Regions from separate parts of the Homo sapiens genome. Here region 1 is linked to region 2. A link means that fine-mapping ties the variant in region 2 to the plasma level of a protein whose gene starts in the linked region. Region 2 holds a variant in brackets. A gene starts in the other region. All regions are shown on their forward strands.

Region 1 (8,275 bases), not on the chromosome of region 2:
AGCTCCTGGCCACTTTCTCTCTGGGTGGTTTTTACTCTGGGAGTAGTTTAAATCATTATCTAGTAGTAGTTTAAAGCATTATCTTTGCCTAAGAGCTTTCGCTGACTCCCCACATTTGCATTGTACTAAGAGTTTTCTCTGACTCCCCACATAGGTCTAGACCCTAGTATTATAAGATTCTCATTGTACTTGCACTTTGCCTTCAAAGTACTAATCACGGTTTTGTTAGTGATTTGTGTGATGATTTGTTGAATCTTTTTTTTTTTCCCACTAGGGTGTAAGCCCCATGTTCCATCTTGATCACCATGTTTCTAGCCCAGTGCTGGCATATAGTGGGTTCTCACTAATATATCTGTAGAGTAAATGAAGAAATGCATGAGTGACATGACAGGAGAATTTAAGGATGCCATGGGAGCATAAAACAGAGGGAGCCACCTGGGTGAGGAGAGCTGAGAAAGACTTCTGGAGAGGCGACATTTGAGCTGAGAAAGGAAAGACAAGTGGGAGAGTCCTCCAGGTGTAGAAGTTGGAGAGATGAGCGCTCCAGTTAGGTAGTATTTGAAGCTGATGTAGAAAAGGAGTCTTGAGCCAGCTTGTGAAGGACTATTGGAGAGTTTTATTTTTATTTTTATCTTTTTTTTAATTTTTGAGACAGAATCTTGCTTTGTCTCCCAGGCTGGAGTGCAGTGGCATGATTGTAGCTTACTGCAGCTTCGACCTCCTGGGCTCAAACAATCCACCTATCTCAGCCTTCTGAGTAACTGGGACCAGAGATGTGCACCAAAATGCCTGGCTAATTTGTTCATTTTTTGTAAAGATAGGGTCTCCCTATGTTCCCCAGGCTATTCTCCATCTCCTGGGCTCCAGTGATCCTCACGCCTCGGCCACCCAAAGTGCTGGGATTATAGAAGTGAACCACTGCGCCTGGCCTATTGAAGGTTTTTAATCTTCAGAGTTTCGACTTTATCAACAACACTTAGAAGCCACCAAAGAATTGCAGGTATGGAAATGACATATACTTTTGCTTTTAGAAGAAAATCCTGATCAGTGTGCACAGAATTCTTCAGGGGGCAAGTGTGATTCATTCTGATAAGATATAGCATGGCTTAGACTGGGAGACTGGCAGAGGCTTTGAAGATTTCTTTGCTCAAATTTTATTCAGCAAGTATTTACCATGCACCTACTATAGCAGGCAACATTTTTAGGAAATGGTGAATGTTACAGAGGTGAATAATACAGCAAGAGTCGTTGAACATATGGAGTTTATCTATTAGTTGGGGAGTGAATGTTGACAAAGGAATAAGTAAATACATAGGCAAGAAAGATACATTACCTGTGAAACAGCAGCAGGTAGACTGACAGTGGAGTATCTAATACAGCCTATGGAAGCCAGAAGATAGTGGGATGACATTTTTGGAGTACTAGTAGAAATGTCATATGAAGAACTCTGTAGGAATGTAACATACGGTCCCATATATGAAGCTCCTGGGTCAAGTATACCTGAACATAATTCAGGGATTTGAGGGACTTTCTTGTAACCTGAGGATCAAGATGTCAAGGAATTAAAAACATGTATAAAACATTGTTGTATAAAAACCCATTAAAAAGAATGGAAGACACTATAGTAAAATCATTGTGGGTTTAGTTGTTATAACACATTTTAAAAATCTTTGATCCCAATCAATATTTATAAGAAAGAAGAAATATGGAATTATTTCCTGAGTCAAGGAGCAGGGAGAGAATGAGGAAGAAGAGGAGGAGGAGGAGGGGGAGGAGGAGACAATAAACCTACTTCCCAAAGTTAACAAACAAAAAGTGGGAAGAGGTCAAAGACTACAAGGAGTAGAATTAACGTCAATTGTTTCTATGTTTGAGTCTGAAAATTTTTTGTCCCTTCTCCACCAACCTATATATTGATACACATATAAATGCTAAAGGCATTTTTGAATTTGAACAGATCATTTTCTTTGTATGGCTGCCTTTAAAAAAAATTCAACCTGGTCACTCTTCCTCAACATTTACTGAGGTCTAAGTGTTCAATTTAGAACACATGCTTTAATAACTCAGAGACCTGTCATTTGTCACAAATCTTGCCTAGAGAAATACTCATTAGCGAATTAGGCAGAAAGAGGATGCAAAATAAAAAGGCACAGTAGTCCCCTGATATCCATGGAAGACTGGTTCCAGGACACCACCAAACCCCTCCCCGCAAATACCAAAATCCATGGATGTTCAAGTTTCTTAACATATCATGGCATAGTATTTGCATTTAACCTACACACATCCTCTTGTACACTTGAAATTATCTTTAGATTATTTATAATACTTAATAGAATGTAAATGCTATGTAACTAGTTGTGTATCATTTAGGAAATGATCACAAGAAAAAAAGTCTACAGATGTTAGTCCAGACACAGCCATCCTTTTTTTTTTTTTCAAATATTTTTGATCTGTGGTTCATTGCATCCACAGATGTGGAACCCATGGATACTGTGGGCTAACTGTATTAATAAAAAAGTGGAAACATCCTAAGTTTCATGGGTGTTTAAATTGGTCAGCAACTTCCTTCTGAAGAAGTATCAGAATTTGTGAGCAATGTTAATATTTTTGTTTTCTCACTAAGAGCCACAGTTCTGAATAGAGGTTTTTAAAAAGCCCTAGCAAGGTTTCTTTAGCAATGAAACTAACATTTAACTGTATCATCAGCTTCGTGTTACATCTCTTTCCTGACTGTTGGGTGAGCCCTCCTCGGATGCTTGCTTCTGGCTACACGCCCCTTTACCCTTTTCTCTGCACTGTTTTCATCTTTATAAAGTCAGAGTTGGTGTCTATAGGCTCTCTACTGCCACATTCAAGACCTGCCTCGCTCAATGTCACCTTCAAGATGCAGAAATAGGGATTTGGGAAGGGGATTGTGAAATTTTCGAAGTCTTCCAAAATACTTTGAGAAACTATATTTGGAAGCACTTTGGGGGGAGAGGTTGGACAGGAAGGGTCTTCAGAGATCATCAAATTTAACTTTCTAAATCCTAAGGAGGAAACCGAGACTCCAGGATGTGAAGTCCCTTCTCTACCAAACTAGAATGGATGCAGGAGGAATGTCTGAGGTGCAATCCTTATCCTTTAGCAAAGGTGTCCTCTGCGTCTTCTTTAACCCATCTCTTGGACCTCCAGAAAGACAGCTGAGGATGGCAAGGGGAGTCTGGAACCACTGGAGTAGCCCCCAGCCTCCTCCTTGGAGGGCCCCCATGAAGGAGGCCCTTCAGTGACAGAGATTGAGAGAGAGGGAGGGCGAAAGGAAGGAAGGGGAGCCAGAGGTGGGAGTGGAAGAGGCAGCCTCGCCTGGGGCTGATTGGCTCCCGAGGCCAGGGCTCTCCAAGCGGTTTATAAGAGTTGGGGCTGCCGGGCGCCCTGCCCGCTCGCCCGCGCGCCCCAGGACCCAAAGCCGGGCTCCAAGTCGGCGCCCCACGTCGAGGCTCCGCCGCAGCCTCCGGAGTTGGCCGCAGACAAGAAGGGGAGGGAGCGGGAGAGGGAGGAGAGCTCCGAAGCGAGAGGGCCGAGCGCCATGCGCCGCGCCAGCAGAGACTACACCAAGTACCTGCGTGGCTCGGAGGAGATGGGCGGCGGCCCCGGAGCCCCGCACGAGGGCCCCCTGCACGCCCCGCCGCCGCCTGCGCCGCACCAGCCCCCTGCCGCCTCCCGCTCCATGTTCGTGGCCCTCCTGGGGCTGGGGCTGGGCCAGGTTGTCTGCAGCGTCGCCCTGTTCTTCTATTTCAGAGCGCAGGTGAGTGGCCACCTTCCCAGGGGATCGCGGCTGAGAGCGCCCATCTCCTTCCCCCGCACTTGGAAACTGAGTCTGGCGGCAGGGCTGGGCCACCCAGAGCTTGCATATTCCGGAAGGGAAAGTGACTCCAGAAGGGAGAGAGGAAGTGTTGAGTTTGGGGACAACCTGGCGCAGGGCTGTCGGGCGCACCCTGCTCTCTCTCCGCCCACGCACCCCAGCTTCTCGGTGCTCTGGGGGCGGACTCCCCTGGCCGGACGATGGGTTTGAATCTCACCCCGTCCCTTCGCTGGGAAACAACACTGGCCTCTCACCTTTTCTGGTAGTGATTGCATACTTTTTCTCCCTGTCATTTCTCACTTGAAGTTAAGAATCAACTTCTGTTCACGTAGGAAAAAAGATGAGCGCCTTCACTTGGGCATCTACCTTTCCCTTCCCGCCCACCACCCGGCGGGTTTCGGTTCCTGCGCCTGGCTGCTCTGCAGGTGTGCTGGGGCCACGGTGCTGGAGGGCTGCGCGGAGCGGGAGGTCGCGGTGCTCGTGCCCAGGTCGCCCAATGGGTGGGCAGAATGACACGGCGCGACCAGAGAGGCGCGGGCTCGGGATGGGGGCTCTGCGGCTGTGGCGCTGTCCTGTGGGGGTGAAGGAAGAGGGACAGCCCCACGTGCCTGCTAGGGATGTGGGCGGAGGAAGGAAGCGAGGTGAGTGTGATGGCACAGTGTTACTACAGTCTAGCAAATAACCAACCTTCGGAAAGATGAAGAGGTTTTTTGCACGACGGCTAGGAACTGCAGAGAGATAGTAGGAAGGAAGGGGTAAATTTGTAATATTATGCTTTCTGGTGGTTTATGCTCTTGTGTTTTCTTGGAAATTGCAGTGCAGTTGGTTGGATTCATTCAAATATTCTTGTCTGGTGCTGTGAACTCTTTCTCAGAGGAAGTGGGGGGCTGACTGTGCATTTTTTTTTATGGGAAAAGAAAGTTGGGTTTGGACTACATTCGTTTTCAGATTCAAAGGTGATTACTAAACCAAACGGGATGCATCAAAACATGGCATTGCTTGGATTGTATGGTTTTTTGACATGTGCCAATGTCTCGAACTCCATTACTTTTAATCATAGGCTTTTTGTTAAGTATTCATTATCCGCTAGTTTGCATTTTCTAGAACTAGTGTGATTACCTACTTAAAGTAGAAATGCAATGAGCCACACTTCAGAAAATCTGCATTAAATATAATCTACTCATTGAGAGTTTTGTTGTTTCTAAAAAGACAACTTTTGAGTGGTTTGCTTGCAACACAGATAACAAATCTATATGAAAGTGACTAAACGTCTTTCTTTCATTGGAGTGTGTTGCAATAAGAATGGCTTACCCATTTTCTCATCCAGCATTTTGTTAATAACCCCCATTTAGTGCTTGTGCATGGAGTGCCAGCGTTGTGCGTGGCACCGTCACCTGCGATGGAATGAGTTAAGAATCATTTATTCAACAGACAGTGTCCACTTACTATGGGCATGGAGCCAGATAGCAGAGTGGCCTAATAAAACCATTAAAATTCTTAGTCAAACAAAAGAGCAACAATCAGAAAAGGGATCAAAGATGCAGTAGTTCTCCACTGTTTATCTTTTCTAACACCTTCGGGATATGGCATTTTCATTGCCATAATAGTGAAGAGAGTGTCCAATGTTGAACGAGCAGTAGGAAATGAAGGAGTTCTAGGAACCATGAACAGCTTGGCTTGGCAGGAGCTGTGGAAATCGGTGGCATGGCTGTGTAGGAAAGAGTGACCTGCTGGGCTCTTGTTAGAGTTGTTCAGCTTTTCCCTAGGAATTCTCGGTGGTCCCCGTGGGTGAGGAGTCAGGGCTTTCAGTGATCTCCCATCATCCTTTAGCAGTCTTGATGCTGTATGGATGATAGTGAAACATTCAGAACCCCTTTTCAAAGTAAACGTGTGAGTTAGTAAGTCTAGCCAGAAAATATACCTTTGAAGAAGTTAATGTCATCAGACTTCTGGGTACGGTTTTCTTAAATACCATGAAAATTCGGTTCCTTTGACTTGTGCAAAATAATTTAGCTATTATTCTGAACCCAATTTTGTATTGCATTTTAAAAAGGCTATCTCCTTCAGTAAAGAAAAAATATTAGGAACAATGTGTTCATATGAATATACCACTAGATCGGGATGCATTTTACTGGATATTGTGTCTACAATTGTTACCCAAAGGAGTCCTAATCATTTTGAGATACATTCTGAAATATTTACAGATAAAACTGCTTTGGTGTCTGGAATTTGTTTCAAAATAATTTCTGGTTGCTTACAGATGAAAAAAGATTTGCCATACATTGGTAATAGCTGAAGCGCTGATGCGTGCCTAGGGGTTCACTCTGTAATTCTTTCCCCTTTTATGTGTGTTAGAGATCTTCTTTCAAAGTCTTAGCTAAGAGAATAGTCTCCATTTGACTTGCCGCTGATTTAACATTTTCACTTATATCGGCTCTTTTGGATTGGAACTTGGTACCAAATAAATCAGTAGTTTTTTGATTCCCACTAAAGTTGTGAATCAACTATCTGAGGTTTCTAAATGCATTTGAATGAGAACAAACTATCTAGTAACATGTTTGTAGTTTACAGTTAAAAATGACGAATTAGTTTTATTGTTTTTGTTTAAAGGTGGAGAAAAGAAGGTATGCAAGTCCTCAAGGAAAAGCAGTTTGAGTTTTTAAATGCATTTAAAAGAATGCCCAGAATAGTGTAAAAATTACGGTGACGGTTAAAAAGTTTTGTTTTCTTAAATGTTTGAATAGATAAAATTGAATCAGCCTCCTAAATGTTTGCAGATTGCATGTGCCTAGATGTAAAAAATACATATCTACTAGATCCGGTGTAGCTTGGCTTTTCCCCCACCACCCTGCCAAAGAGAAAATAGTGTGTGGCTTCTGCTATATATTTACCACATAGTATTCATACTTTGGTTTACAAAGAAAAAAAATAAAAACCCTTTCAAAAAGTTGCTCTGTGTGTGTGTGTGCATGTGTATGTGTCTTTAACATCCATATAACCATATTCAAAGCTTAGGGTTTAGCTATAAAGATAAACTTTTCAGAAAACTGAAGATGTTTTGCCCTTTTAACTTCTTCCCTCGATCCCCCAATATGCACAAACCAACCTCCCTGGTTGTTTGTTACCCAGGACAGCAGTCACTACTGAAAATCTGATGTAGAGGTGTGCACTGCCTGTTTGAAAACACAGATAACGAAGTAGCACAAACGTCAAGCATCCTGCCTCATTTAACCCTACAAATGATTAAGTTTCAAGGAAGTTAAAAAAAATGAGACAGTGTATTTCGTAGGCACATTATCTGACAAATGCATTTTAACAGTCCATTTTAAGTCAGATATTCAAGATTTACTTAATGTTTTCAGACGTGTCTAAGTACAATGAATTCATTGGTTACTCAGTTTACTGTGACTTTTGGTTGAATTTCTGTGTTCCTCAATGAAGTGTAAGTTCCATGAAGACAGGGACTGCTTGCTTTGCACACCACCTTATTCATAGCATCTAGCCCAGTGCCTGGCATGTCTAATTTACTGCAAAGTCTTTTCTAATGATTTGCAACACTACAGATATGCCCATTTCTGATTGTAATATGCAAATTATCAGATTAGTGGCTAAAATAGTATCATTTTTCAATCATGCAATCCTCCAACCAGACTAATGTGTGCTAGTAGGTAGGTTGTTGGGTAGGCGATACATTCGTTCAGTCAGTTCGTGGGCATTTGCTGAGGGTCCAGCATCAGTCTGGCTCCCTCCCTGCTCTGCAGTTCCTTCAGCTTAGAGGCCCTCATTTACCTGTGTGTGTGGCTGGCCTTGCACCCTGAACCTCTCCTCCTCCGTTTTCTCCTAGTCTCCATTTTCAGGAAAGGAGAGCTGCAAGGGCATTGGAATGAGAAAGACATGTGGTTGTAGGTTAAAAATAAATTTCTAATGTGTGATCCTTGAGTAAACAAAATAAATGAGTATATTAAAAGCAATTATTCCATGCATTCTTGATTTCTTTTGGGAAAAAACAGTGGATGGGGTTTTATACATATTTTAGCTATAATGCTGCCTTCCAAAACAGTGGTTCTCAACTGCACATTGAAAGTATTTGGGAAGAGGTTCAATGATTGGACACTTCCCTTAGGGATGTTGATGAAATTGGCCAGTGAGGGGTGGGGTAGGAATGAGATGGGATCTGGGTGTGGGCATTTTTTTAAGAGAAAGGGGACAAAATCTTTGCATTGTACTTATTTGCATCAAATCAGTAACCATTATTAACTGTTTCAGTATCTTTGTACTAATTGATGTTACTTGTGAAACAATTTTAAAATTGGTGTCAGGGAACTTTGGAATCGTTTCAATAGCAGAAAATCTATATTTTAAAGCATGACTTCTCAAACTTTAATGTGTATAAGAATCACCTGGGATCTAGTTAAAATGCATATTCTCAGGCAG
Region 2 (8,340 bases):
ATTACAGGCGACCCATATCTTATTGAATAAGTCTCTTAGTCATGAGAATAGTTTTGTCCAGTTAGGCAGTTGTATCTCATTTTAGGAGATGATGTTATAGGTGGTCCTTCATCTAGGTTAGGCCTCTATAAGGTGTGGTCAATCAGTATTTAATAAGAGGCATTTCTACGGAAACGAAAGAAAAGTAAAGGTTAATGGTTGGAGCAAATTATACAAGCCCAGTTTTTGAGTCCAGAGGACAGTCAGTTGAGATTTCTAGATGTTGGGCTTGAAGCATCTTTAGATGGTGGAATGATAAGAAGTCGTGGCAATTTTGATGAATTTCCTGTTGTGTTCTTTACATCAGGTGTTCTGGTGAACTTTCTGAGCACCCCATATACCCACGGGCATGAAAATTGTCCATAGGCAAGCTGTTACTGTTACTGAAACACCTGAGGATGGGTCTAGGTCCTGCTGCTTGAAACACAGAAGGTCAAGCACTGAGACACTGAGTATTGCCACGGAAATGTAGGGGTTTATATAGCAGGGAAGAAATTTAACCATAGGTAGGAATACAGGAATTAGAGAGTCATGATAAGAAATGTAACCATGTGTGGAAAAACAGGAATTAGAGAGGAGTAATGAAGAGAAGTGGGTCAACGGGAACCACCTGGCTGGTTAGGCAATCATAGTGGATGAAGAGTGTAGCATTTCACTGTTGAAATGCAATGATTTCAGGAAGTTTCAGTTCCTTGACACTGTCTGGGAGGCTTGATGGTGGGTTTCCTGAGAAAGGAAGTTAGATAAGACTAATGTAACTTTCTCAAGTTTTAACACTGGGAGGATCAATTTCTATGATTTTTCAAATAAACCATAAACATCGATCCTATGAGACAGTTGGGTCTGTTTCAGTCCCTCCTTTCTACTTATTAATTCCTCAATCCCGGGGAACCTGGCCCTGGATCTTTCTGGCTGCTTCAAGCTGAGGAGGCCACCATGGGTGACCTCGTGGCCACTCAGGAATCACAGGTTAATCTAATCCTACAGTTTTCTTCTGAAATACAATCTTTCTCTCTCCATCCCCCACTTCCACCAAAGATGAATCATAGCAACATCATCTCTTATTAATATTACACAAACGTTTTCTTCAAAAGAAACAACAAAGTTTTTACCCTTGTATGGTGTGTTATTAATGTTAAAACTCACTTTAATAAACCCATAGCAACTAATCTATTTAATTTTAATTAGTTTGACCATAATGTAAGATTTTCATAAACCTTCTATAATGTTTTACAATTTTCTATTAAAGAGCAAATCAGTGATCCAAGGAAACCCTGTTATTCTGATACAGGGGCCCAGACTCTGGCCTTGCATCAGTGTGCTTTTGATCTTAATGCTTAATTTGTAGAAAAACTCCAGACTTATTTTATCCCTCAGAATCAGTCCTTACAATCTCACATGCCCATCTCTTCCAAAATAGTCCCTGGGCCTAAAGGGATTGAATAGTTTTAATTTCTTGCCCTGTGTCTCATGAAGGCACTTCATTTTGATTGTCACCTTCTCCTGGGTCTGAAGACGAAGCTTTGACTGGTGCCAATGTTCAAGATTAAGCAAGAGTTGGCCGGACCCGGGGGCTCACGCCTGTAATCCCAGCACTTTGGGAGGACGAGGCGGGCGGATCACGAGGTCAGGAGATCGAGACCATCCTGACTAACACAGTGAAACCCCGTCTCTACTAAAAATACAAAAACAAAAAATTAGCCGGGCATGGTGGCAGGCGCCTGCAGTCCCAGCTACTCAGGAGGCTGAGGGAGGAGAATGGTGTGAACATGGGAGGCAGAGCTTGCAGTGAGCCGAGATGACGCCACTGTACTCCAGCCTGGGTGACAAATGGAGACTCTGTCTCAAAAAAAAAAAAAAAAAAAAGATTAAGCAAGAGTTGGTGCCTTTTTCAGACCCAGGAGTCAAAGTCCTTTAACTTGACAGCACAGGATTGGTTAACAGGATTTTACACTGCAGGAAGTCCTAGCATTCTCTCTAACATGTCACAGATTAACCATGTCCAGTAGTTACTGCCTGCGGCACTTCAAACCATTATATTAAAGTGGTTAGGTTACTTATAGCATATGTCTAATGCCAACAATCTAGTGACAGAACTGTGCCCGAAAGCATCAAAAATGTGATAGGTTTTATGCCAAACTTATCAAAGTAAGACAACTAACTTTCCTCTCCATTATTTAAAAAAAAGCTAAATACAACCAGGCACGGTGGCTCACGCCTGTAATCCCACTTTGGGATTATACTTTGGGAGGCCAAGGCAGGTGGATCACCTGAGGTCACAGCTTTGAGATCAGCCTGGCCAACATGGTGAAACCCTGTCTCTACTAAAAATACAAAAATTAGCTGGGTGTGGTGGTGTGTGCCTGTAATCCCAGGTATTTGGTAGGCTGAGGCAGGAGAACCTCTTGAACCCAGGAGGCAGAGGTTGCAGTGAGCTGAGACTCTCCCACTGCACTCAAGCCTGGGTGAGAGAGCAAGACTCCGTCTCAAAAAACAAACAAAAAAATAAGGTAAATGCGGATATCTGTTTTCGAAATTCAGAATAAGGATAATCTCCTTCTCTTAAATATTGTACAAGAAAACAGGGACAGAGTTAAGAACAAGCACAGAATAATTTCAACTATTTCAAAAAAGCGTCATCACACCTTTCCAAGATTGTTAATCTAGACAACTGCTTAGGTAAGTTTCACCACTAGAAACTTCAAACTGGTGCAACACTTGTATATATTTTATTTTCAAGTACACACATGAAGGCCTAAATGTAATAAAAGGGTTGGAATAAAAAATCAGTAGAAAGTTGGCTGGGCACAGTGGCTTATGCCTGTAATCCAGCATTTTGGGAGGCTGAGGCGGGTGGATCAACTGAGGTCAGGAGTTCAAGACCAACCTGGCCAACATGGCAAAACCCCATCTCTACTAAAAATATAAAAATTAGCTGGGCATGGTGGCAGGTGCCTGTAATCCCAGCTACTTGGGAGGCTGAGGCAGGAGAATCGCTTGAACCAGGGAGGCAGAGATTGCAGTGAGCCAAGATCACGCCATTGCACTCCAGCCTGGGCAACAAGAGCAAAACACCATCTCAAAAAAAAAAAAAAAGAAAAGTCTCACTTTTAAAATTACTGCTTAACCCAAGTGAATGTCACTTAGTTATGGTAAACACAACTAAAGCAATTTTAGAGAAATTCTAGTCAGTATAAATTTCTGAAGGGCAAGGCCAATCTTTCCTGAATATTAAAACTTTGTGCCCGTATCACAGTTTTTCTTCATTGCCTAAAGAAAAGGATCTGAAACCAACTTAAATTGATGGAATTGAATTTCCATGAAAAGAAATGCCATTTGAACATTTCTCCTCTCACTTGCTTTTTCAGATAACAAAATCAATAATGTTCTTTTTCTGCTGGACTTGTAAGCCTTTTTTTTTTAACAGGAAGCTTAAAGTTCTTCTATCTCTCTAGATCATCAGAGCTAAGCAAAACCAATCCAATTTTAAATGGCTGGTGTGCTCTCTCGATTTTGCAGGTTTGACCAAGGTAGCTTAGGAAGTTTAGGTAAATAGAGCAAATGATAAATGGTTGGAAATGCATAGGAAACAAAATGGCTGTTCATAGAACCAAATACAAGCCTTCCATTAGAAACTAAAACACGGCCGGGCACGGTGGCTTATGCCTGTAATCCCAGCACTTTGGGAGGCTGAGGCGAGTGGATCATGAGGTCAAGAGAACGAGACCACACTGGCCAACATGGTGAAACCCCGTCTCTACTAAAAATACAAAAATTAGCTGGGCATGGTGGCGCACACCTGTAGTCCCAGCTGTTCGGGAGGCTGAGGCAGGGGAATCACTTTAACCCAGGAGGTGGAGGTTGCATTGAGCCAAGATCACGCCACTGCACTCCAGCCTGGTGACAGAGCGAGACTCCATCTCAAAAAAAAAAAAAAAAAGAAAAGAAACTAAAACACGACAATGGACTTACAATTGTATGCATAAGCCAAACCCCAAGGAAAACAAACAGCAGCTAAATGCAAATTAAAAGCAAAAACAAATGAACAGGACACCAACCCCCAATTTTTTTTCCTACTCAGTTGTCTTGGAGGCTACCATGTTACCCAGAGCCTAAAAAAAAAAAAAAAAAAAAGAATATTTTATTCCTGGTTTACGAATTAATGTCTTTAAGTCCACCAATCCCACTGTATATTTTGTGCAATTAAGAAATTCACTTTAGGCATGTGACCAGTAAGTACTTTATTGCTAGTACTATCTCTGCAAAAGAGCAGTACAGTGTGAAACAAAGCAATGCAAGCGTGGGTGTGAAATGTGGCCCCTTGTTAAATAGGACTTCATGATGAACTATATTAAAGAAGAATTGGCAAACTGCCAGTGTATTTCTTTACAATACTTCTTACTTTACCTTCATCAAGACTAAGCGCTTTAACCACGAGCAATGTCAATTAGCCAAACTTTTCAATTTTCTATCAGATTTTAAAGAATATTTTACAATGTACTTGCATGGATCATTGATGACATACTAGGACTTTCTATTTTGTCCTAAATTTTTTTCTGTCTTGTTTTAATAATCATTCAATTTATATTAGAACATATTCATATATTCATCATACAAGACTTTTTCTCATACAAAGTTATTCTCTTTTCTTTCTAACCTTCATTACCAAAAATATATCTTCACCATAATTTTTTTCTTTTCCTTTTTTTTTTTTTTTTGTTAGAAATGAGCTTTTTGGCAGGTCA[C/T]CCAGGCTGATCTTGAACTCCTAAGGTCAAGCGATCCACTTGCTTCAGCCTCCCACAGTGAGCCACCACGCCTCCCATAAATCCATAACTTACTTCACATCTCTCTCCCCTACTTACTGGTTCCTTTCTACCTTGTTTAATAAATAACCTTTGCAAGTCCATAATTAGAATTAACCTTTAGATAACTTCTGAATTAGACTAATTTATTCTTTTTCTTAATAAGAACACATCTTTGGCAAATCTTATGTACAGAATTATACACTAACTACAATTGTTATCCTTAGTAACTTTAAATTTTAGTGAAAACTAGGAAGCAAAAAGTCCTGAACTGTCTATCAATAGAAAACACTAGCATTTTCTAGATGGGTTTTCCATAAGGAGGAACAGTCAGACTGCAGGTTTTTCTTTCCCTTTCTCGTAACCAGCCTAAGAAACAATATTTTACATTTTATCAAAATAATTCCCAGCCAGGTGCAGTGGCTCATGCCTGTAATCCCAGCACTTTGGGAGGCCAAGGTGGGTGGATTACTTGAGCCCAAGAGTTCAAGACCAGCCTGGGCAATATGGCAAAACCTTACAGCTACCAAAAATACCAAAAAGAAAAAATTAGGCCGGGCACCTTGGCTTACCCTGTAATCCCAGCACTTTGGGAGGCTGAGGTGGGTGGATCATAAGGTCAAGAGATCAAGACCATCCTGGCCAACATGGTGAAACCCCATCTCTACTAAAAATACAAAAATTAGCTGGGCTTGGTGGCGTGTGCCTGTAGTCCCAGCTACTCGGGAGGCTGAGGCAGGAGAATCGCTTCAACTAGGGAGGCGGAGGTTGCAGTGAGCCAAGATCGCGCCACTGCACTCCAGCCTGGTGACAGAGCAAGACTCTGTCTCAAAATAAATAAATAAATAAATAAAATAAAAAACAAAAATTAGCTGGCATGGTGGCACATGCTTGTAGTCCCAGCTACTTGGGAGGCTAATGTGGGAGAATCACCTGAGCCCTGGGAGGTGGAGGCTGCAGTGAGCCGTGATCACACCATTGCACTCCAACCTGGGCTACAGAGCAAGACCCTGTCTCAAAATAATAATAATAGTAATAATAATAATAACTCATTTGTTGCCTTTATTAGGTTTTTAATTGTTTAGAAAGACTGAGATCTAAAAGGTTTTTTACATTCATGTAACCTTCTGTATTGCTTTTTTTTTTTTTTTTGAGATGGGGTGTTGCCCTGTCGTCCAGGCTGGAGAGCAATGGCCCCATCTCAGGTCACTGCAACCTCCGCCTTGTGGGTTCAAGTGATTCTCCTGCCTCAGCCTCCCAAGTAGCTGGGATTACAGGCACCTGCCATCATGCCCGTTTAATTTTGTATTTTTAGTAGAGATGGGGTTTCACCATGTTGGCCAGGCTGGTCTCAAACTCCTGACCTCAGGTGATCCACCCGCCTTGGCCTCCCAAAGTCCAGGGATCACAGGCGTGAGCCACTGCGCCCAGCCTATTTTGTCCTTTTAACAGAGAAATTCAAATTTTAGTTTTATGTCAGTTCACTCAGTATTTAAGCTCATTTTTAAAAGTACTATAATAAATTCATTCGGTTTAATTAACTTGAGCACATATGATTCTCTCTTGTTTTCTCTAACTTTTTATTTCTGCTGTGATTTTTGTGTGCCCCCAAAGTTCATGTGTTGGAAACTTAATTCCAAATGCAACAGTGGGGGGAGGTGGGACCTTTAAGGGATGATTAGATCAAGAGGGTACTTCCCACATGAATGGATTAATACATTATTGTGGGAGTGGGTTCGTTATTGCAGGAGTAGATTGGTTATAAAAGTGAGTTTGTCCCCCTCTTGCACATTTTCCCTTCCTCCCATGTATGCCCTCTTGTCCTTCCACCTTTCACCAGGTGATGAGGCCACAAGAAGGCCCTCACCAAATATGGGCCCCTTGACCTTGGACTTCCAAACCTCCAGAGCAGTAAAAAATCAATCTGCATATTTACGTAAATCACTCAGTCTCAGATGTTCTGTTATAGTAGCACAAAATAGACTAAGACAATATCCATTCAGTTTTATGTTTTTTATTGATTCATTTTGAAACAACCTTTGAATAATTTTCAAACTAAAACAATATTATTTTTTATTTTAACAAAAACCCATCTTTTCTGTCTCATAGTTTTTTTGTTTATTCATTTTTGTTTTTTTAGAAAGAGTCTTGCTTTGTCGCCCAGGCTGGAGTGCAGTGGTGCTATCTTGGCTCACTGCAACCTCCACCTCCTGGGTTCAAGCGATTCTCCCACCTCAGCCTCCGGAGTAACTGGGGTTACAGGCACCTGCCACCATGACTGGCTAATTTTTGTATTTTTAGTAGAGACATGGTTTCAACATGTTGGCCAGGCTGGTCTCGAACTCCTGAGCTCAGGTGATCCACCGCCTCAGCTTCCCAAAGTGCTGGGATTACAAGCATGAGCCACCGTGCCTGGCCAGTATATTTCATAGGTTTCAAAGAAAAAATACACCTTATTTTTCTGTTATGCTTTGCGTATAAAGTTGCTTCCCCTAATATTTCTAGAAATTCCAATTACATTAATATGATTAATTAATAAGAATTGTTAACTTTTAGTGTCTTTAATTTCCAGTGAACACTAGAGAACTAGAAGGTATGCAGTCATGAACTGTTTTCTTCCAAGTTTGCAAGCACACGATTTCATACTTTCTAGAAACACGATTCCTAGTCCTATGACACAGGACAGGAAATGGCAGAGGAAAGGTTTAATAGGCCCAAATATCTTTTGTTCTTCTGTAATAGGTAGGCAAAGTAAGTTCTAAATTTATGTTCAGCAATAAATGTTTCAGTATCATATTAATATCTTATTTGGAAATGATCTAGATATTCAATACATATTGCTATGGTTTGAATGTTTTTCTGCTCTGAAAATCATATTAAAACTAAATCCCCAATGTAACAGTACTCAGACGTAGGGGCTTTAAGATGTGATTCCATCATGAGGGCCCTGCCTTCATGAACAGATTAATCCTTCACAGATTAATGGGTTATCGTGAGTGTGAAGTAATTGCAATTTGTGCGTGATATGGTTTGGATCTGTGTTCCCACCAAATCTCATGTTGAATTGTAATCCCAGATGTTGGAGGTAAGGCCTGGTGGGAGGTGATTGGGTCGTGGGAGGCTTCTCATGAATGATTAACCACAATTTTGTGGTGCTGTTCTCCTGATACTGAGTGAGTTGTCCTGAGATCTGGTTGTTTGTAAGTGTGTGGCACCTTCCCCTCTCTACCTCCTGCTCTGGCCATGTGAGACAGCTCACTCCCCCTTTGCCTTCTGCCATGATTGGAGGCTTCCTGAGGTCTCCTAGAAGCAGAAGCTGCCATGCTTCCTGTACAGCTTGCAGAACCGTGAGCTAATTAACTTCTTTTCTTTATAAATTACTCAGGCTTAGGTATTTCTTTATAGCAATGCAAAACAGACTAATACAGTGTGACTCTGTTGTAAAAGGCTGTTTGTCTCTCAGTGAGTCCCCTTGCCATATAATTCCTGCACCAACTTG

Which allele goes with the higher level. Positions count from the first base shown, and alleles are read on the strand shown. Strength reflects both the effect of a copy and how common the allele is.
With allele T in place of C in region 2, the plasma level of the protein whose gene starts at base 3,414 in region 1 is higher (weak association).

The links. A credible set is the group of variants that fine-mapping cannot tell apart. PIP is the posterior inclusion probability: the model's chance that the variant is causal. Protein levels are from antibody-based Olink assays in UK Biobank. Linkage for the fine-mapping came from a reference panel and not from the study's own genotypes, which makes the PIPs less certain.
Region 1: TNFSF11 starts here. The variant in region 2 is the best candidate, but not a certain one, in a credible set for the plasma level of the TNFSF11 protein (UK Biobank, PIP 0.51).

The regions. Positions count from the first base shown.
Region 1 is chr13:42,570,739-42,579,013 of GRCh38, forward strand. It overlaps TNFSF11 (TNF superfamily member 11), which reads left to right and starts at 3,414. Exons shown (of 5, transcript NM_003701.4): 1 at 3,414-3,784. The coding sequence starts at 3,566. RefSeq lists a silencer at 3,352-3,721 and an enhancer at 3,812-4,011.
Region 2 is chr8:23,180,377-23,188,716 of GRCh38, forward strand. No RefSeq gene overlaps it. Among named protein-coding and RNA genes, the nearest start is that of TNFRSF10D, 21 kb to the left of the region's middle. The variant C/T (reference allele first, on the strand shown) is at 4,785.